Linked DNA regions of Homo sapiens: all the other regions are linked to region 3. The links come from fine-mapping of genetic effects on gene expression. A gene starts in region 3. Each other region holds a variant in brackets. All regions are shown on one strand. Distances are from middle to middle.

What was found. PIP is the estimated chance that this variant, and not a neighbour inherited with it, causes the effect.
Region 1: its variant is fine-mapped to the expression of RETSAT in whole blood (TOPMed, PIP above 0.99).
Region 2: its variant is fine-mapped to the expression of RETSAT in whole blood (INTERVAL, PIP 0.95).
Region 4: its variant is fine-mapped to the expression of RETSAT in whole blood (TOPMed, PIP above 0.99).

The regions. Positions count from the first base shown.
Region 1 is chr2:85,292,012-85,297,209 of GRCh38, forward strand. All of the region lies in intron 4 of TCF7L1 (transcription factor 7 like 1), which reads left to right. Among named protein-coding and RNA genes, the nearest start is that of TGOLN2, 33 kb to the right of the region's middle. RefSeq lists an enhancer at 2,368-3,039. The variant G/A (reference allele first, on the strand shown) is at 2,089.
Region 2 is chr2:85,320,215-85,325,542 of GRCh38, forward strand. TGOLN2 (trans-golgi network protein 2) reads right to left here. Exons shown (of 4, transcript NM_006464.4): 3 at 4,701-4,784; 4 at 1-2,527. The coding sequence ends at 2,522. Among named protein-coding and RNA genes, the nearest start is that of TGOLN2, 5.1 kb to the right of the region's middle. The variant A/G (reference allele first, on the strand shown) is at 2,537.
Region 3 is chr2:85,351,508-85,356,806 of GRCh38, forward strand. It overlaps RETSAT (retinol saturase), which reads right to left and starts at 3,021. Exons shown (of 11, transcript NM_017750.4): 1 at 2,829-3,021; 2 at 173-355. The coding sequence starts at 3,000. ELMOD3 (ELMO domain containing 3) reads left to right here and starts at 3,262. Exons shown (of 14, transcript NM_001135022.2): 1 at 3,262-3,322; 2 at 3,569-3,663; 3 at 4,048-4,091. RefSeq lists enhancers at 3,023-3,524, 3,089-3,488, 3,525-4,024, 3,659-3,718.
Region 4 is chr2:85,305,440-85,310,767 of GRCh38, forward strand. It overlaps TCF7L1 (transcription factor 7 like 1), which reads left to right. Exons shown (of 12, transcript NM_031283.3): 9 at 767-926; 10 at 1,013-1,120; 11 at 2,203-2,278; 12 at 3,590-4,948. The coding sequence ends at 4,023. Among named protein-coding and RNA genes, the nearest start is that of TGOLN2, 20 kb to the right of the region's middle. RefSeq lists enhancers at 774-1,274, 4,197-5,080. The variant T/C (reference allele first, on the strand shown) is at 2,758.

The DNA.
Region 1 (5,198 bases), 60 kb before region 3:
TTTTTTTTTTTTTTTTTTTTTTTTTTTGAGACGGAGTCTCGCTCTGTCGCCCAGGCTGGAGTGCAGTGGCACGATCTCGGCTCACTGCAAGCTCCGCCTCCCGGGTTCACGCCATTCTCCCGCCTCAGCCTCCCAAGTAGCTGGGACTACAGGCGCCCGCCACTACGCCCGGCTAATTTTTTGTATTTTTAGTAGAGACGGGGTTTCACCGTTTTAGCCGGGATGGTCTCGATCTCCTGACCTCGTGATCCGCCCGCCTCGGCCTCCCAAAGTGCTGGGATTACAGGCGTGAGCCACCGCGCCCGGCCGGTCATATGTATTTTTAAGGGAGAATGGGAACATTTCAATGGTAGCTGCCTTTGGGAAGTGGGGAGGAGCATAAGACTGGTGGAGTGTTTAAGAGGATTTAACTTTCTGTGATGTTTTATTTAAGAAAAAAAGAACAAAATTTAAAAGCTATAAAAACAATCCCACATGGCAGGTTTTGGGTGTGGTATCATTCTTTATACTTTTCTGTATTTCTCAAAAAATATTTTTGTAGACTTTATGTCTTAAGTTAGCTATTTCTCTCTTTTTGTTTTTTAAGACAGGGTCTTGCTCTGTCACCCAGGCTGGAGTGCAGTGGCACAATCTTGGCTCACTTCAACCTCCACCTCCTGGGCTCAAGTGATCCTCCCACCTCAGCCTCCCAAGTAGCTGGAACCACAGGTGTGCACCATCATGCCCAGCTAATTTTTTGTATTTCTTATAGAGACGGGGTTTCGGCATGTTTGCCAGGCTGGTCTCAAACTCCTGGGCTCACCCAATCTGGCTGCCTTAGCCTCCCAAAGTGCTGGGAATACAGGCATGAGCCACCACACCCAGCCCAAGTCAACTATTTCTTTCATAATGCTGTGTAACAAACAATTCAGTGGCTTACATTAGTAAACATTTCTTTTTCCACTGATGGACCTGTGGGTCACTTGGAGTGGCTGTTTTAGCTTGTTAAGGGGGAGGTTCAGGTCTTCTCCACATGGCTCTTATCCCAGGACCAGTGGCTATCCAGGTCATGTCCTTCTCATGGCATGTGGCAGATACAAAAGAAGGGAAGCAGATTGAAAGCTTCCTTTCACTTCATTTCATGTCCACTAATATTCCATTGGTCAGAGCAAGTCATAAGGTGATATGGTGTGGATCTGTATCCCCACCCAAATCTTGTGTCTAACTGTAATCCCCAATGTTAGAGGTAGGGCCTGGTGGAAGGTGACTGAATCACGGGAGTGGTCCTTCATGAATGGTTTAGCACCATCTCCTGGTGCCATTCTTGTGATGGCGAGCAAGTTTTTATAAGATCTGGTCATTTAAAAGTGTGCAGGACCTCCCCCCACTCTTTCTGTCTTGTTCCTCCTCCACCAAGTAAGATGCGCCTGCTTCCCTTCACCTTTCTCCATGATTAAAAGTTTCCTGAGGCCTCCCCAGGAGCCGAGCAGGTGCCAGCATCATGCTTTCTGTACAGCCTGCTTAACTGTGAGCCAATTAAACCTCTTTTCTTTATAAATTACCCAGTCTCAGGTATTTCTTTATAGCAATGCAAGAACAGACTAATACGTAGGGGCAAGTCTAATACTGATGGGGCAAGGGAAGGAAAGAGAATTATAAATAAATAGTAAAAGCAAACACATGGCTACATCCTGACCTATTGATCTTGTTTAGCATTTGAGATTCAAGAATGTAGAACATACTCTAAACAGAAATAAATTATTGCAAGTGTTAACAGTCTCGTGTCCAAGTACTTCCTGTCAGAGTTTAGCATCTTCAGTAGGATCAAAATTAGAATTTCTCTTGGTTGTCGTCTTCTCAGTATTAGAAGGACCCTACCAATACTGTTTAGACACTGGCAGCATCTTCCTTATCATCCGGTTGGTGGGTCTCTTGAGCAGGCATCGGAGTCATCTGGGGAACTTGTTAAAACAAAGATTGCTGAACCCCACCCCTAGAGTTTCTGATGGAATTTAGGTGTGGCCTGAACACTGGGATTTTTTTTTTTTTTTTTTTTTTTTTTTTGAGATGGGGTCTCCCTCTGTCGCCCAGGCTGGAGTGCAGTGGCAC[G/A]ATCTTGGCTCACTGCAAGCTCCACTTCCCGGATTCACGCCATTCGCCTGCCTCAGCCTCCTGAGTAGCTGGGACTACAGGCACCCGCCACCACGCCCGGCTAATTTTTTGTGTTTTTAGTAAAGACGGGGTTTCACCATGTTAGCCAGGACAGTCTCGATCTCCTGACCTTGTGACGTGCCCGCCTCGGCCTCCCAAAGTGCTGGGATTACAGGCGTGAGCCACCACGCCTGGCCGAGCATTGGGAATTTTAAAAGCTCTCTGGATGATTTCAACTCTGGGTGAATCACACTTTGCAGAGTTTGATTCAGTGGGTCGCGGTAGGTCGAGCCTGAGAATTTGCATTCTAACAAGTTTCCAGGTGATGCTTATGCTGCTGGTCTGGGGACTGAGCTTTGAGAACCACTGGCATAGGGACATTGTCTGCACTAGTAATGGTAAACACCCAGTTTTAGCATTGCAAATTGGGTCACTCTCAGAAGCAAACTGGAGAGTTTCATGTCAAATTATTGATTGCTGAGCCAGTGCTGGATGCTCTCTGAAAGAACATCAATAGCTCTGCCCCAGCTTTGAGCTGAGAAACCTGACGCTGCTTAACATGCCAATTCTCAAAAATATTCATTGGAATTTCCCTTTTACAACTGTACATACAGCCAGGCACGGTGACTCACACCTGTAATCCCAGCACTTTGGGAATCTGAGGTGGGAGGATCACTTGAGCTCAGGAGTTCGGGACCAGCCTGGGCAACATAGTGCGACCTCACCTTTACTAAAAATAAAAAAAATTAGCCGGGCATGGTGGCACATACCTGCAGTCCCAGCTACTCGGGAGGCTGAGGTAGGAGGATTGCTTGAGCCCAGGAAGTTGAAGCTGCAGTGAGCCATGATCAGGCCACTGCACTCCAGCCTGGGTGACTGAGACCCTGTCTGAAAAAAAAAATTTTTTTAAATAAAATTCTACATAACTTCTCCATCTTCTTACCAGTATACCTGTGTAGATGCAGAAAACTCCAAAACCCATAGCATATCCTGTTGGTGCTCTGTACTACCCTCAATACTGATTGTAATTCTTAATACACAGTAATAACTTTTGTTTTGTTTTGCTTTGTTTTGTTTTTTGAGACGGAGTATTGCTCTTGTCACCCAGGCTGGAGTGCAATGACGCGATCTTGGCTCACCGCAACCTTTGCCTCCCAGGTTCAAGCGATTCTCCTGTCTCAGCCTCCCTAGTAGCTGGGATTACAGGCATGTGCCCGCATGCCCGGCTAATTTTGTATTTTTAGTAGAAACAGGGTTTCTCCATGTTGGTCAGGCTGGTCTCGAACTCCCGACCTCAGGTGATCTGCCCGCCTCGGCCTCCCAAAGTGCTGGGATTACAGGCATGAGCCACCGTGCCTGGCCACTTTTGGGTATTATTTTAACTCCCAGAAAAGTTTCAAGAATAATACAAGGAACTCCCATATAACCTTTATCCAGATTCACACATTTTTCCCCTGGGCTTTGTGCTTCTCTTTCTCTCTCTCTCTCTCTGTTTTTTCTTTTCTGAAAAGTTTGAGAGTAACTTGGAAACATTGTGACCCTTTACCCTTAAATATTTTAGCTATATTATCTAAGAACAAAGGCATTCTCTTAAATAATCACAGTACAGTCCTCAAAATGAAGAAAGTAACATTTACTTTTTTTTTTTTTTTTTTTTTTGAGACCGTCTCGTTCTGTCGCCCAGGCTGGAGTGCAGCGGCACGATCTCGGCTCACTGCAGCCTCCGCCTCCTGGGTTCAAGTGATTCTCCTGCCTCAGCCTCCTGAGTAGCTGGGATTACAGGTGCCCACCACCACGCCCAGCTAATTTTTGTATTTTTAGTTGACACAGGATTTCGCCATGTTGGCCAGGCTGGTCTCAAACTCCTGACCTCAAATGATCCACCTGCCTCGGCCTCCCAAAATGCTGGGACCATAGGCTTGAGCCATCATACCCAGCCAGTAACATTAACTTTTCATGTCATTATCTTACTCACAATATAGATTGAACTTTTGGCCGTGTCCCAATAATGTCCATGATAGCCCATGTGTTTCTCCTGGTCCCAGGTTCCACCTGGCATCATGGATTACATGTAGCCCTCATGTCTCTTTAGTTCCCTCGAATCCAGCAGAGGTCCTTAGCCTGTCTTTGTCTTTCTTGACCTTCACATTTTTTGAGAAGTACAGGCCAGCTGTTTTGTAGAATGTCCCTTAGTTTGGGTTTGTCTGATGTTTCGTCATGGTTAGATTCAGATTGTGCATTTTTGGCCAGAATGTCACTGCACTAAAGTTGCATCCTCGTTACCTCATTTCAGGAGGTAGCCCTACAGTCTGCCTTTGTCCCAGTATTAGTGATGTTAGCATCAACTGTTTGGATTAGGTGGTATCTGACAAACGTTTCCACCCTAGGGTAACAATTTTTCCCTTTGTAATTAATAAGTGTTTTGTAGGGAGAGGCTCCAAGGCTATGCCAATGCCCTATTTCTCATCAATTTTTCACCCACTAGTTTTAGCAGGCAGTGATGGTTTTCCACCTGCATCGTTCCTTCTGTTCATTTCTGCTGTTGAGCTTCAGCGTCTTTGAAATTCTTACTCATGTCTCCCAGCCCATTCGTCTTTGTATAGACTGGAGTTGACATTGTGGCAAGTCACATTTGTGCCATTTGTAACTGTGATGAGAAAGTCGCTGATAGATACAGAGAAAAAAAATTAAAAACCATTCTACAAATAGTGTTTCTAAAGAAGAGACCAAACTGAAGGAAAAGAGGCAATTAAGAAAGTTAAAATGGGCTCTAAAAACAAAAACTTGAATTTATGGATTGAAAGAGCTCCTTTGAATTCTATAAAACTCAATGAAAATTGACATTCACCTAGACATATCCTAAAAACAGTTCAAATTGCAAGGGTTTAGAAATGTTTTCCTTCAAGCACCCATGCAGAAGAGAAAAAAAGGCAAATGCCAAAGGAACAAAAATAAAGGTAACCTTAGGGCTGTCTTTTGCCACCCTTAATGCCAGCAAACAGTGGGAAAAGAAGAGTTTGGGTAAGGAAAGGCTTATCCCAAGAATGACAAATCCTGTCCTACTTGCAAAG
Region 2 (5,328 bases), 31 kb before region 3:
AGGTCTGTAACTGGATTCTCTAAGCCTTGAGAAGTTCACACCAAAGCTTCAGACCAGGGAAAATATTTTGGAAAGATCAGTCTTTCCAAGAGTGAGCTCCTTTCCAAGAAGCTGGACAGGAAACCCAATAAATGTGGATCTGAAAAAACAAAATCCAAGAGAGAAGCAAAATGGGCTGGGGGTGTGCAATAAGAGAAGCAAGGAAAATGGAAAGACTGTAGCTGAGGATCTTTTATTAAAAAAAAATGGATGGGACTTTGGTGATGAGAGAGAAAAAGGGCAAAAGTCTGCAGTTAGGAATTTAGGTGACCGAAGACTGTCCTAGACAGTTGGGAGGGACAGGCTGATGGACAGAAGAGAGAAATTCCTTTCAATGACAACCAAGCTGAACTATTCGATACCAGCAGAACTGGGTTCTTTAGGGATTAAGCCAAGACAAAGACTTGGGAATCACTCACTCCGAGGATGAAGAATGGGTTAATGGCTGAGGAGACAGTCAAAGGAATAGAGAGGCCTGGCTTTGAGGGCCTCTTCACCACCAGCACAAGATAAGGCAAAGGACCATTTGTCAGAGACACCAAGAAAGGGGAATTTCCATTTGGATGGTCAATAGTGTCCAGTTCTGCCAAGGACAAGACTAAGCTTTGAGAAAAAGCCATGGATTTGGTGATTGGATAACTGGTAACCTTTAGAAAAGTTTAGTTGACAGACAGAGACCGAAGTGAGTTAGTAAAAGTCATGAAGAGAATGAATGGCAACTTAAGGGAAGCAACATACTGGAGAAGTTGAGCAGCGGGATGAATAACAAATAGGACAGATGGGAACAGAAAAATCTGGGTGCATACGAAGGTGGATGGAAAGGAGCTGGTACAGATGGGCACAACCAGAAAACATGAGGAGGGGAAAGGAAGGGAAAAGGAAGGCAGGCAGGGAGAGAGACGTGAAATAGCCACAGTCTTAGGGGATGCTAGAGAAGCCTAGAAGATTCCTCAGGTTGGTGCAAAGTATTATAAGACTAACGCATCAGTACAGAGAATGACCCAAGAAGGGTAGGAGTTCATTCCTTACCTTCATAAAGTAGGCTATCCGCCAAGAATGAAAATGTCAACTCAAAGCTATGGGCTGTTTTAAGCAAGGTGGAAGATAATATAAGAAGCATGGTCCTTTCTTCAGACTTACTGCCTTGACAGCACAGAATTCATCTTATTTCCCTCATCTCCCAAGTTATTTGTATTTCCCTGAGATCAGCTCAGAAACAACTCTCTTTAGGCTCTCTACAATGCGGTAGAGCATGATTAGAAAAGATAAACCTTCAAACAATAGTGTTGTCCAAGACACTACCCTCACTTATCCCAGGGGAACCCACGGAATTTCTTCATTTGTATTAACTCCTGACATGGCATGGAAGAAGAATTTTTATCAAATACCCTTGGCATCTTATATCAGATTAAAGGACCATTAAATACACTGAGGTAAAATTGGCAGAGAGTATAGTTTCTATTAATAAATCTAAGTCTATTTTGTCTGTTTTAGGCAACAAAGGCAAAATGGACTTTGTGGGAAATGTATCTCATAAAAGCCCTTTGGAAAAACTGCAGACCAAAACCAAAACCCTCCTTCATGTTTTCTCGCATGAAACATAAACTTGCCCTATTTCAAAAAGTTCCTACTGAGTATGATTGTGTGAAAGATCACACTACTTCAAATCATATTTATTTTAAAAATCTGTGATGGGACAGTGGCCTCACTGCCAGGAAGCCCAAGTTCTGTTTTATGCTCGGTACAACTAAGTGGAAGTTGATTCACTTTGTCTCAAGCTACATAAAATAATCAGAAAATCAAGAAGATCTCATGCTAGACAGGTTAGACTTGCACCCAAAAAAGCATCTTTTTTTTTAACCTGCTGTTTTGGTTTGCTGCTGAAGTCTTTGAAGAGAATTATGTATTCAAAGTAGCTCTTTGCCCATTGGCATTTCCCCATCTTCTATGTCTTCTGTAGGGCACATCCCCCCCAAAGTAAGAGGCCTTAGTAGAAAAGCACTTCCACCTGCAGTTTTCCCCTAGGTCTGCAGAGAGAAACAGTGCAGAGTGCAATGCCACAGTCAAGGACCAACTTTCCTACAGAGCCCGGGCCCCAGGGAGGGTGGTCAGCAGCGCAGCCTGCCCAGGCTGGGATCTCCCTTTGGTCATAGCCGTGTTTCCATATACCCCTCCACTCACCCTCAGAGGAGGAACGGATGGAAGCCACCAGCATAAATAAAGGGAACACAGAAGAACAATGTCACCAAAGTGCAGGTGCAAAGCCCAAAGCAGCCCCCTACCTCTGCCAGCCCAGACCCGCCACTAAATTCTAGAGGAGGGTGTCTCTCAGGTCACAGTACTTTTTTCTTCATTTCTTTTGATTTAGAAACAAATCAGCAGGGAGGACAAGGTTCTCAAGGACAAAAAAATCAAAGCTGAAACGAGAGCAGCACAATCCATTGGTGACGTTCATCTTTTTCCAGAGGAATATACCATTCTGTTAGGACTTAGGGGA[A/G]AAAAGATCTTTTAGGAGGTGCAGGGAAAACATTCAGAATTAAGACATACTGACCCACCACCACAGAAACAGCAATTAATTAAAATAGCACACAAAATGATTTTTAAAGTTTGAAATGAAACCTAACACTAGAAAGATATACACTTGATGGAGAGAGAGGAATCCTGGCTTCTGCTTCATACTGTTCTGTACTGTTGTGAATTATTTACATGTGTTTTTTGTTGGTGGTGGTTTTCTTCTTTTTTGAGACGGAGTCTTGCTCTGTTGCCCAGGCTGGAGTGCAGTGGCATGATCTTGGCTCACTGCAACCTCTGCCTCCGAAGTTCAAGCGATTCTCCCACCTCGGCTTCCTCAGTAGTAGCTGGGATTACCATGCCCAGCTAATTTTTGTATTTTTAGTAGAGATGGTATTTCACCATGTTGGCCAGACTGATCTAGAACTCCTGACCTCAGGTGATCTGCCTCCCAAACTGTTGGGATTACAGGCGTGAACCACTATGCCCAGCCACATGTGTATTTTTTTAAAAATCATAAGCCATGTGTGGTGGCTCACGCCTGTAATCCCAGCACTCTGGGAGGCTGAGGTGGGTGGATCATTTGAGGTCAGCAGTTCAAGACCAGCCTGGCCAAAAGGGTGAAACCCCATCTCTACTAAAAATCTAAAAATTAGCTGGGCGTGGTGGTGGGCGCCTGTAATCCCACCTACTCGGGAGGCTGAAGAGGGAGAACTGCTTGAACCCGGGTGGTGGAGGTTGCAGTGAGCCAAGATTGTGCCACTGCACTCCAGCCTGGACGACACAGCAAGACTCCGTCTCAAAAACAAACAAACAAAAATCATAAAAGGGGGAAAACCCTTAAAGTCAATTATCTGAAAAGGCAGTAGTCCAGAGCTAAATTGTAAAGCTAGCCTACTGGACTAGTTAGCAAAGATATTCTGAGCTCAGTGGCTCGTTCTGTAGCTAATATTGAGTTGTGCAAGAGAATCGTGTTCCCTGCAGGAAGTCTGGGAACAATTCATAGTTGGGCCACCAATGGTTCTTTGCCAATGTCCTGGCTGTTGCTATGCTGAAAGCAGAAGGAAGGGTGCATGCTGGTAGCAACGCAGTGAGAGTACAGTCTTCCTGCTTAGACAGGTTGTCTTTAGAGAGACCCTTGCTTAGCTCTGCTGCCATGGGGTGGAAGGAGGGCTTATCTGTCTGACAGAGGAATGGATTGGCTGTACTCAGGAACTCCAGCCTACGGTGCTTAAGCCAGGCTGATGTGGGGAGTTGGAGGCCTATGTGCTTCCAGGCTCGTGTTTCCAGGGAGCACAGTCTAGCACTTTACCACACAAAGTGTGGATCCAGTGGCATTTGGTTTCACCTGGGAACTTCCTAAGAATGTAGACACAGGCCAGGCACGGTGGCTTATGCCTGTAATCTCAGCACTTTGGGAGGTCGAGGCGGGCGGATCACCTGAGGTTGGGAGTTCGAGACCAGCCTGACCAACATGGAGAAACCCATCTCTACTAAAAATACAAAATTAGCTGGACGTGGTGGTGGCGCCTGTAATCCTAGCTACTCGGGAGGCTGAGGCAGAAGAATCGCTTGAACCCAGGCAGCAGAGGTTGTAGTGAGCCGAGATTGCACCATTGTACTCCAGCCTGGGCAACAAGAGCAAAACTCCATCTCCAAAAAAAAAAAAAAGAATGTAGAAATATAGGCTCCACCCCACATCTAATGAATCAGATAATGCTTTTTATCAAAATTCCCCAAGGTGATTCAAATGCCTATTAAAGTTTATGGAGCGCTGGCAGAATGCAGAAAGCTCAGGACTGGGAGACTAGGGAGTTGCTATCAGGTCCTGAGTTTGCCACTAACTTGCAGTAGAAACTTAGCGGAAAAAAAAAAAAAAGAGTGTTTCTGCGTGGGCCTATTTCCTCATCTGTGAAGGGAGGTAGCTGCTGTAGAGTATTCCAAGGTCTCTGCTAGCTCTAACGTCACAGATATGTGTATCTAGATGTTTCTAGTTTGTTGTCTAAAAAGGGCGAATGCAACAGCAACAGCAACCGCATCCCCAGAATCAGCCACTGCTGCTTCATGGCAAATGCAAGCCCACTACTGGGTCCATCTGACGTTGCCTATCCCTCCTATCCCTCCCATGGACCTGGCTCCTCCTTCCTTACCTTCTGGTCCAAACGTTGGTAGTCACTGGCCTTTGGCCGCCGGGTGACTTTAGATCTTTTTCCTTCCAGGACAAAAGCAATGATCTGAGGAAAGGAAAAAGAAAATGATTAACAGGTGGCTCTGTAATGACATAGTTCAGTCTCTGAACTCAGAGGCAGTCACCTGGTAGCATATTTGTTAATGACCCTGACTGTAGAAAGAGCAGTACACTCACAGAGGTCTATTTAAACTATAACCATTTTAAGAAAGACAGAGCCTAATTACATCAGAATCCTTTGTATTGCTTAATAGGAAATAACAAATAGAAGGCTGTCTGAGCTCTAGCGTGTGGGAGGAAGTCTGTTTGATTTATTCAAAGGTACACAGTCAAAGATCTATCAACTCCTTCCTAGAGATATCTAGGATATAGGACATTCCTTTAAAAAAAGTCATAATCAGAATTTCCTATCTACAAATGTACTTTTTCACCCCACGATGCTACATCAACTACATTCTTTATCAATCTCATTTCATGACTAAGGTTACCCTGCATAATGGACACTTGGACATAGAATAAGAAATACACTTTTTTTTTTTCTTAGAGGCAAGGTCTCACTCTGTCACCCGGGCTGGAGTGCAATGGCGTGA
Region 3 (5,299 bases):
CAGCCTGGGTGATGAAGTGAGACTCTGTCTGAAACAAACAAAGAAAAAAAGTACCCAGAGAGAAGATGGCACTTCCAAAACAACAGAAATGCTCAGTATCACCCCACAAGGGCTGCTCCAAGCCTCTTCAACATACAGCCATGCTCCCAACCCTTTTCCACACAAGCCTTACCTGTGTCAAATTCAAGGCCATTCTTTCCAAAGGTATGACAGCAGCCCCCTGCCTTGGTATGTTGTTCCAGCACCAGGACTCGCTTGCCAGCTTTAGCTAGAATTGCAGCTGCAGCCAGGCCCCCAAAGCCACTGCCAATTACCACCACATCCAGCTTCTCCGGCACTTGGTTGGCTGAAAAAGCTACAGCAGAAGGGCCAAAGGGTGGGTTTCTCAGGCAGGGGCAGGGAAATAGCAAAGATAGGGAAACCAAAGAAGACTTCTCTAGCTTGTACAGTGCAAGAAACCTCTAGAGTGGTTTGGCACAGAACTCTTGACTAACATGTTTCAAACATTTTACCTGGGAATACTCAGAACCAGCCAGGCAGATTTGGGGTTTTGCTTATTTGTTTTTTGAGACAAGGTCTCACTATGGCCCAGGATGAAGTGCAGTGATGTGATCACAGCTCACTGCAGCCTTGAACTCCTGGCCTCAAGCAATCCTCCTGCCTCTGGTTCCCGAGTAGCTGGGACTACAGGTGCATGCCACCATGCCGGGCCATTTTATTTTTATTTTTATTTTTATGTGTTTAATTATTTTTTAAGACGGAGTCTCACTCTGTCACCCAGGCTGGAGTGCAGTGGCGCAATCTCCGCTTACTGCAAGCTCCGCCTCCTGGGTTCACATCATTCTCCTGCTTCAGCCTCCCGAGTAGCTGGGACTACAGGTGCCCACCACCACGCCCGGCTAATTTTTTTTTTTAATATTTTTTAGTAGAGATGGGGTTTCACCATGTTAGCCAGGATGGTCTCGATCTCCTGACCTCGTGATCCGCCTGCCTCGGCCTCCCAAAGTGCTGGGATTACATGCATGAGCCACCGCGCCCCGCCTATTTTATGTTTTATAGAGCCAAAGTCTTGCTATGTTGCCCAGGCTGATCTTGAACTCCTGGCCTCAAGTGATCCACCCACCTCGGCCTCCCAAATTGCTGGGATTACAGGCATGAGCCAACACACCAGCCCACAAGCCGGGTTTCTTTGGAAGATGCAGGGTCTGCAAGCAATAGTGGAATAGCTGGGTCTTATGGTGGCTCTTCCAGGTCCTGATGAAAAGGCTTGGGCAGGACAGAACTGCTCAGAGGCTGCAGCTCTGAGAAATCACAGCACCAGCCCCTCCCATAGGGAAGGTCTGGGGGCAGTGCTGAGGGAGGCAGCACCTTCTCAGAAGACAAAACTGGATAGCAAGTGGTGCTATATGGGTACTTCCGACACAAGATCTGTTCTTTAACAATCACTGGCAAAGAACTGAGATCTGGGATGTTTCAAGATACAAGAGAACTTGGCAAACTGCTTATTTTTTTAATGTTTTTAGAGAGATCAATAGTAAAAAAAAATTTCACATGTAAGTATATAAGATAAATACATGAAACAAGTGTCACAATGCAATACTTAGTGGAACTATGTATAATGCACTCTGATATTTTCTATTCTACTGCATTCTAAAATACTAGTTGTGGCCAGGCGTGATGGCTCACGCCTGTAATCCCAACACTTTGGGAGGCCGAGGTGGGCGGATCGCTTGAGGCCAGGAGTTCGAGAGCCTTGACAACATGGTGAAACCCTGTCTCTACTAAAAATACAAAAATTAGCTGGGCATGCCCACTACTCGGGAGGCTGAGGCAGGATAATCACTTGAACCCAGGAGGCGGAAGTTGCGGTGAGCGGAGATCGCGCCACTGCACTCTAGCATGGACAATAGAGCGAGACTCTGTTTCAATAAATAAATAAATAATGCCAGTTGCAACTCACTAAATTGATTTCATAGCCCACTAATAGATCACAATCCGGTTTGAAAAGCAGTTAAGCTAGTCATCTCATTTTTAGACCAGCCCAGGTAGGTGCTAATGGTTATGCAGCAAATTAGTGACAGAGTCCAAGCTAAAACTCAGTTCTCAGAAGTCCAGATGATTAGTCCTTCCACTTAGAACAGTACTGTCTCCGATTGTGTAGCAAGATATGACACGGAGAATTCTAAAATTTACAAGTGAGAGGGACTCCGTAGATCAAACAGGTGATCCATTATTTTTTAAAGCAGCAGAACTCTTTAAACTCTAGAAGCAACCACAAAATATGTTTTAAAGATGAGAGTGGAGAGCAGGCTCTGAGCCTGAGGCGCCTTGTTGAACCTCTGCCAATGTTTCAGAACTAGGGTTCAATCCTTACGATTTGGGACCATGCAAAGCCTGTTAAATCACCGGACGGGCAAAACGCAATTTCCTACGCATTTCTGTGCTGCTCCCCCACACCCCTGAGCTCGCATGGGAGGGTAGGTGAAAAAGTTAAGGTCCTGGAACCAAGTGGAGGAATGAGTCACGGGGATTATCAGTTCCACGAGCCACGGGGATTACAAGTGGCAGGGCGGGTGCCAACACCTTGCAAACCAAGGACAATGACCACACCCTTGGGACTACTATTCCCGGGGCCTACTAGGGCAAAGGCTATCGACAGTGTTGCACACTAAAGCGGGGCTCCTCCACGTGCAAGGAAGCCCTCCTAGTACTTTACATATGGGGAAACTAAGGCCCACGTCTGGTAGCGGCTGCCTTGGCAAAATGAGAACCCAAATCTGTGAGAAAGCCTCGAGTGCAGCCCCGGACCCCAGGGTCCCTCCTGCTACCTTGTTTGAGAACCTTCTTCCTGGCCTCCTTGTCAGTTACCAGGGGCGCTGGGGGCCGTTTGACATCTTCGGAGAAAGGATTCGGGGAGCTGCCAGAGAATAGTCCCAAGTAAACTTTGCAGAGGACGGCCAGCAGCAGCACAGCCAGGAGCAGCACCAGCGGAAGCCACATCACGCCGGCGTCGGGTCGGGTAAATGGGACAGCTCCGACTGCGCTCAGCCTCTAGGACTGTGGCTCCGCCCGGGCTAGTTCGCTCTCCAGTCAGGAGGCGGAGGCAGCTTTGAGCACTGATTAACCAGCCAGCCAGCGAAGAGCCAACTCTCAGGTGATGATTGACCCTCCCGGCTCTCCGTACTTCTTTTGGGTTTCCATTGCCTACTGGGAAATGTAGTTCTCGGGGCCAGGGGAGCCGGCACGGAAGCGGCTGTGCGCATGAGCAGATGAGGCCTAGCCGAGGCGGCGGGACCCCCAAGTTTGGAAAGCTCTTTTAACGGTGAGAACGCGTTAACACTTGCCAAGGGGAGTGGTTGGTGCCTGTGCGGAGCTAGCAGCCGGCCTGAGGAGGGAGGGAGAATGTGATCCGGTGGAAATTATCACTATGGGGCGAGACAAGGCCGAGAGTTGTAAGACTGAAAGAGAATCCCGACTGGGAGACAGGAGTCCTGAGTTCTGGTCCTGGCTCTGCCCTGGACTCGCTGCCTTGAGGTGTTAAATTGCTTTCCTCGTCTTACGCCTCCAGGCTATGCGAAAGTTCTGTCCAAAGGCTGCTCACAGCCCCTGTCTGACTGGTTGTCATGATGAATTGAGCTCTCTGTTACCTGCGCATCACAACCGGTGAGCGTCTGTCTCTGTGCCCCTCAAAGTGGCCCATAGTTTTGTCCTGGGGGCCCGCCTGGGACGGAGTCCTCTATGGCGGGTCCCTAATGACACCCCATCCGTGGGGAACCTGGGGGACGGGGAGCCGCCCATGGACAAGCATGGTGAAAGGATCAGCTAAGGGCCCATCTAATTTAAATTCCTATGCAGAGAATCTAACCTCCAGCAAGCAGTTGAAGAATCATACCCCCTCCTTGCCTAAAGAGGGTGCATAATGAATACTTGATTGGAGAAGGATCCATTTTTACAGGAAGGCCGTTTCCTTAGGTCCAACTATCAGGAATTTGCCTTTGAGTACTTCCTTGTTTAATGGAATTGTTGCTCTTTTCTTCTCTGCTACAGATAGTAACTGTCCCTACTGAAGGCCCCAGGAGTGCTCCAGCCAGGTGTGGAAAGCTGGTCACGATTCTATGCTACTTGGTTCATTTTCTACACAGCAACAGAAGAGCCCTCCTGAGATTGCTATTACCATACCCGCCTGTCACCTTGCCAAGGCTGGCCAATGTGTGTTTTGTCATAGGCTGTCATGGAGGCCATGATGGAGGAAAAGGAAAGGGGAGGCAGATGTTGAGGCCCCAGAGGCCACAGTGAGAGCAGTTTAGTTCCTGGGGTGCCAGGACTAAGGGGGCATTGCCCTGTCCCCCGGATTACAGTGAGCCACATGTCAAGCCCAAGAGCCAGGAGGTATTCTTCCTCTCAGTGTTAATAATCAAAGCATCCTGACACCAGCAGCCAGTTTTTATGGCATCCTGGAGGGCTGACCTCATAGAGAGGCTACCCTCCTTCCTTAGTCACCCAAAGTTGTGAACTATGATTGTCAGTTGTGTGTGGGCCATCTGCCCACTTAGGATGCAATTTTTGATGTGACAGACATTCCGGATGTCCAATTCCCCTGTGATGAGGTATGAGCCTTGTCCAGCCCTTTTCCTGAGGGAAGCAATGTCAGATGAAAGACTTAGAATTGCCCAAACTGGCTAGCCAGCTGCCACATGCACAGTATTGCTGATAACTGAGAAAGGTTAGAACATCGTGTTGCATTTTGAATTTCTACCATTGTTGGAACCAGGTCTAGTATTATAAGCCCCTGACCCAGCCTGTGTGTGAGGCCTAAACAAAGCCTGAGCACTTCAGCTAAGACCACCCACCAAGGTGACACCTTTAGCCTCACGCCTTTGATAAGCTGGCCCAGGTCCCAGTAACTCCATTGTCAGAAACAGACCCCATCCCTTCTAGTGGTGCTGCTGCCTTTTGGACACAGAATCCAGCTCACAGTCCCCTGTGTGGTCCCCTTTTGGCCATCCTGTGGCTTGGGTAGTAAGAGGTAAGCATTTGGCTGAGGCAAGTTGTTCATTCAGAATAAATTCACAGCTGCTTAAATTTTGTCAACAGGCCGAGCGTGTTGGCTCATGCCTGTAATCCCAGCACTTTGGAAGGCCGAGGCAGGCGGATCACGAGGTCAGGAGTTCAAGACCAGCCTAACCAACATAGTGAAACCCCATCTCTACTAAAAATACAAAAATTAGCAGGGTGTGGTGGCGCACGCCTGTAATTCCAGCTACTCGGGAGACTGGGACAGGAGAATCGCTTGAACCCG
Region 4 (5,328 bases), 46 kb before region 3:
GCAGGCTGTGGGGAGGGGTGGCCACACTCTGAGCAGCAAATGTCATGTACTCTTCTCTCTTGGTGTCACTCAGCAGGCATCACAGCCTCCCCAGCCAGGCCCTCCCTCTTCCTCGGGACTTACTCCCTCTGACCTTCTGGGTCCCTGTCCTTTCAGGGACATGGTGCATCTTCTCTCTTATTAAGGAAAGTTTTACTGTCAGGTCTCAGAGGCTGAAAGAGAACCTGAGAAAGCTTTTAACACCCCACCGTAAGATATATGAAAAGGTGAGGCCCAGAAAGGAGACAGTGTTTTCTTAAGGACTTGTGGTGGGCTGGTGGCCGAGCTGAGATGAGCACCAGGGTCCTTACCTTGCCCGTGTACCATAAAGATGGCAGGAAGCCAAAGTCAGTGCTCCCTGGAGATCCCAAGAGAACCCCCTCCCAACTTGGTTCTGCCCAGAGTGCCCCACACTGTGTCCTGTCACCGCCGCCAGCACCTGCCAGCTCCAGTGAGAGCTCATCTCAGCAACCCCACCATGCTCTGTTCCTCTGTCAGGAAATTGGAGAGTAGATTTTCAAAGAATCTGGCGTGGAGATCGTTCAAAGGTGGGAAACTACGGGAGGAAGGTACTCAGGTGTTGAGTGCAGCCATGGGGCCACTTGAATTAGCATCCAGGCAGCCCGCGCCCCTCCCCAGAGACAATCAGCGGTGTTTCAGTGACAGGTGGGGATTGATGAGTTGTGTGACACCTGACATGCTAACCTACAACCACGTGCCTTCCCAGGAAATCACCAGTCACCGTGAAAAAGGAGGAGGAAAAGAAGCCCCACGTGAAGAAGCCTCTGAATGCCTTCATGTTGTATATGAAGGAGATGAGGGCCAAGGTGGTGGCTGAGTGCACCCTGAAGGAAAGTGCAGCCATTAACCAGATCCTTGGAAGAAAGGTAAGACCTGCCCTCTCCCTCCAGGCCAGGGAGGCAGCGTCCCTGCATTGATGGCTCCGTGTGGTCTCTGACCCTCTCTCCCCCAGTGGCACAACCTGTCTCGAGAAGAACAGGCCAAGTACTACGAGCTGGCCCGGAAGGAGCGGCAGCTTCACTCGCAGCTCTACCCAACCTGGTCAGCCCGGGACAACTATGTAAGTGCACACTCTGGGCAGAGGACGCTCAGACCCCAGGAACAGCCTCTGCAAGAGGAGGAAGGGTGAAGGAAAGCAACTGCATTTATTTTTATTTATTTTATTTTCTTTTATTTTTTGAGACAGAGGCTCACCCTGTCACCCAGGCTGGAGTGCATGCAGTGGCGCGATCTCGGCTCACTGCAAGCTCCGCCTCCCCGGTTCACACCATTCTCCTGTCTCAGCCTCCCGAGTAGCTGGGACTACAGGCACCTGCCACCACACCCGGCTAATTTTTTGTATTTTTAGTAGAGACGGGGTTTCACTGTGTTAACCAGGATGGTCTCGAGCTCCTGACCTCGTGATCCGCCCACCTCGGCCTCCCAAAGCGCTGGGATTACAGGCGTGAGCCACCGCGCCCGGCCAGCGACTGCATTTATAGAGGACTCTTAAGATCAGGGAGAAGCCCATACTTCTCTAGAAATAAGGAAGGTGTTTTAATTCTCAGGAGGTCAACAAGTCCTGAGGACGGACTTCAGTTGATGCATTTCCCTTTGAACTGGACTCTGCCCTCGATTTCATAACACAGGGCACGGGGTTAGCTGTGGTAGGAAGAGTTGTCTCCAGCCACTCCTAACCCAGGGCTCAAAGACCAGTGTGTGAGCCTCAGGGGGCGTGTCTCTAAGCTCCCGGAAACCAAGCCAATTTTCGCATGCGTGTTCTTCTTTGCTTTTTTTCTGGTAAGAGGACCCACAGTTGCATCAAACTTTCAAAGGGACCTGGGACCCCTCAGAAAAGATCTAGAAGCACTGTTCTAGGGAGAGAAACAGAAAAACAGAGTCTGAAGGGCAGTGGAGGGAGGAGGCCTTCCAAGAAGGCCTGGACACCCGACCTGGAGGGGAAACGCGTTTGTAGGGGAGGAAGGGCTCCCTCTGCCTCCTCACGGGCTCCCACGGCTGTGATCTGAATTATCTCTCCACACTCTCCCTGAGGGATCGAGAGCAGTAAAGGGCAACGTCCTGTCTTCTCTCTGATCTGGGAGCCCCTGAGAAGCCAGCATTCTTCTCTCCCAGCTTACCTCTTCCTTTGGCTGTATTTTCCAGGGTAAGAAAAAGAAGAGGAAGAGAGAAAAGCAGCTGTCCCAGACACAGTCACAGCAGCAAGTCCAGGAGGCAGAGGGTGCGTCTCGGGGCACTGGCCTCTTCTCCTGCTTTTCCTTTTGTCACAGCCACACCTGCCCATGCTGTCTCTAGCTCCCTGATGGGTCAGGGCTTCTGCCTCGGTATTCGCGGGCGGGTATTATTACCCCTTTCTCGAGGTGGCCACTTAAGAGGCTCTGAGATGTGAAGGCATTTTCCCAGGCACTCTGCTTCAGTGGTGGTGGTAGGATTTGATCCCAGGACTTTGTCACTTCAAAGCCTAGACAATCTAATTCCATTGAAAAGTGAATCATCCTACCTGAGGGTTAATGGAATGAGGTTGAAATTGTCTTTGAAATACCCTTAGGAAGGCAGCACATGAGCCCCTGACATCCCACCTGTCAGTGGATCCAGGGGAGCCCGGGTTTCCTTGGATGTTTCTTTGGTTGAACACCAGAAAAAATTAGTTTGCTTGGGTTTAGGAGGCACTTTGTGTCAAAACCATGTATAAAATCTCTA[T/C]ATTACCAGAATCATGCCTAGCACAGAAAGATGCTCACACTGTGACGATTATTATTAATATTTAGGTCACGCCCCCCATCTCATGCTCACTCCAGGACAAGTGTATCGCTGCTTGCACGATGTAAAGTGCTTTCAATCTCTCTTCTTCATTCCTCCCTCCCTCCCTTTCTTCCTCCCTCCCTTTCACCTTCCCTCCCATTCTCCTTCCCTCCCTTTCCCCTTCCCTCCCTCCTTTTCTCCCTCCCTTTCTCTTTCCCTCCCTCTCTTTCCCTCCCTCTCCCCCTCCTTCCCTCCCTTCCCCCCCTCCCTTTCTTCTTCCCTCGCTTTCTCCTTCCGCCCTCCCTTTCTCCTTCCCTCCCTCCCTATTTCCTTGCCTCCCCTCCTCCCTTCCTTCCTTCCTTCCATTATACATAGGAGCGCACATGAGTGGAACCCGTACCTGCTACAGAACCCGCTGTCTGGCACGCTGTTCAGCAGGCATGCACTCTCTCTGACTGTATTAATACCATAAACCAAAGATTTCAAAGCAAACTGGAGATTCATCCCAAAAGTTACCAGCTTTAGGAAAGGAGGGTGGTCCTGTGAGACACTGAGCCGTCTTCTCTCCGATCTGATGCTGGGTGGATCTTCATCAGTTTGGGCGTTGCCTCTTCTCTGTGCTCTGGGTATTTGTGAATGCAGTTTCCTAGTCTTGAAAGCCTTGGAAGTAATGTCAGGTCCTCGCCAAAATCATCCCTGTGTCTCCAAAGCACATGTATCGCCAGGGCTGTTCCTCAGCCTCCTCCTCTCACAGAGCTATAGCTGCTCACTCTTTCTTGTATTTTCCCCCTAGGTGCCCTGGCCTCCAAGAGCAAGAAGCCATGTGTTCAGTACCTGCCCCCCGAGAAGCCCTGTGACAGCCCTGCCTCCTCCCACGGGAGCATGCTGGACTCCCCGGCCACTCCCTCTGCAGCTTTGGCCTCACCAGCTGCCCCTGCTGCCACCCATTCGGAGCAAGCCCAGCCCCTCTCCCTCACCACCAAACCAGAAACCCGGGCCCAGCTGGCTCTCCACTCTGCCGCCTTCCTGTCGGCTAAGGCTGCAGCCTCCTCCTCTGGGCAGATGGGCAGCCAGCCTCCCCTCCTGTCCCGGCCCCTCCCCCTTGGGTCCATGCCCACAGCTCTGCTGGCCTCTCCCCCGTCCTTCCCCGCCACGCTCCATGCCCACCAGGCCCTCCCGGTGCTACAGGCCCAGCCTCTTTCCCTGGTCACCAAGTCTGCCCACTAAGCTCCCCCCGACCCCTGCAGGCTGTCACATGACTCATTGAGTAGTAATGATTCAGAAGAAAAAGAAAAAGGAGACTTTATTGGTCAATATTTGACCACTCTGGACTGTTCTGTAAAGTGGCTGGTAACAACAGCACTTTACAGTTTGTAGATGTAACCAGTAGCTGATCTTAAGGCTTTTTTAAAAAACAAAACAAAACAACAAAAAAAAATCTTTATAAGAAAGAGAACTGAAAAGTAGCGTGCTATTCGTCCTGTAGGTGCTGTGGTGGATGGACCTGGGCAGAGGGCACTTCTCTCTCTTACCTCTCTTGCACTTTCTGTCTCCTGTCTCTTCTCGCCCCTGCCGCCTGCCCCAGCTTCCCCGACTCCATCTGCAGCTCTGCCATTGTGACATTTCCTGTTACCCAGCCCAAGTTTTCATCGTCTGCTCAATACCGTGGGTTCTTCTTCGTCCTCTGTCCTCTGCCCAGTGTGAGGCCATCACCATGTGAGAAGACATCTTGGCCTGATTTGCTGCCACCAGCGTCCCCTCCCTCAGTGGGCCCGAACTCGCCAGCCCCAGCTTTCAGTGGAGAAAGCGGTCCTCTGAAATGGTTTCCTCCCAACCCCCGCATTTAAAGGGACTCAAGGTGCCTGCCACTTCCTCAGCGAAGAAGTCTGTGTTCCTCCCCGTCCTTGCCAGTGGCGATCATCCCTTCACAATCCCAGAGTGGCAGGCGGGACCGGCCCCATGGTCTGGCTCCTGTCACCTGGGTCCGTGCCAGCACAATCTGCCAAAGTTCTAGAGACCCTGTTCCCTTCCCCATCACCTCACATGCTTCTTCTGTGTGTATTTCTTTTTGTTTTTATGGTTTTTGGAGCAATTTAAACTCCCAGTTGTTTATTTTCACAAAAGAAAATAAAATTGCAGTTGCAAGACCTTTTCTGAGTGTTTCTTTAGTGCTTTTGTTGAATCAAACCACCTGTTTGTTTCACTCCCAAACCCTGTGTTAGACTTTCGCAGATATGCAAAGGAAGATTGCCACTTGCCACAGGGGAATGTTAGGCATGCCTGACACCCTTAGAAAACCTGAACCCAGCTTCCTGTCTCAAATGTGCATGGGCCAGTCAGTGTCCATGACTGAGCTGCAAAGGGGGTAATCATTTTCACAGCTGATTTAAATGAATTTGCCGCCTGGAATGACATTCAGCTTATGCTTCTATCACCCATTTGACTCGTAATTGCCAAGATGTGAGGAAGCATCTTTTGGATACTTTCCATAGTATCTAGCACCACAATTAATTTTTTGTAACAGCTTTATGG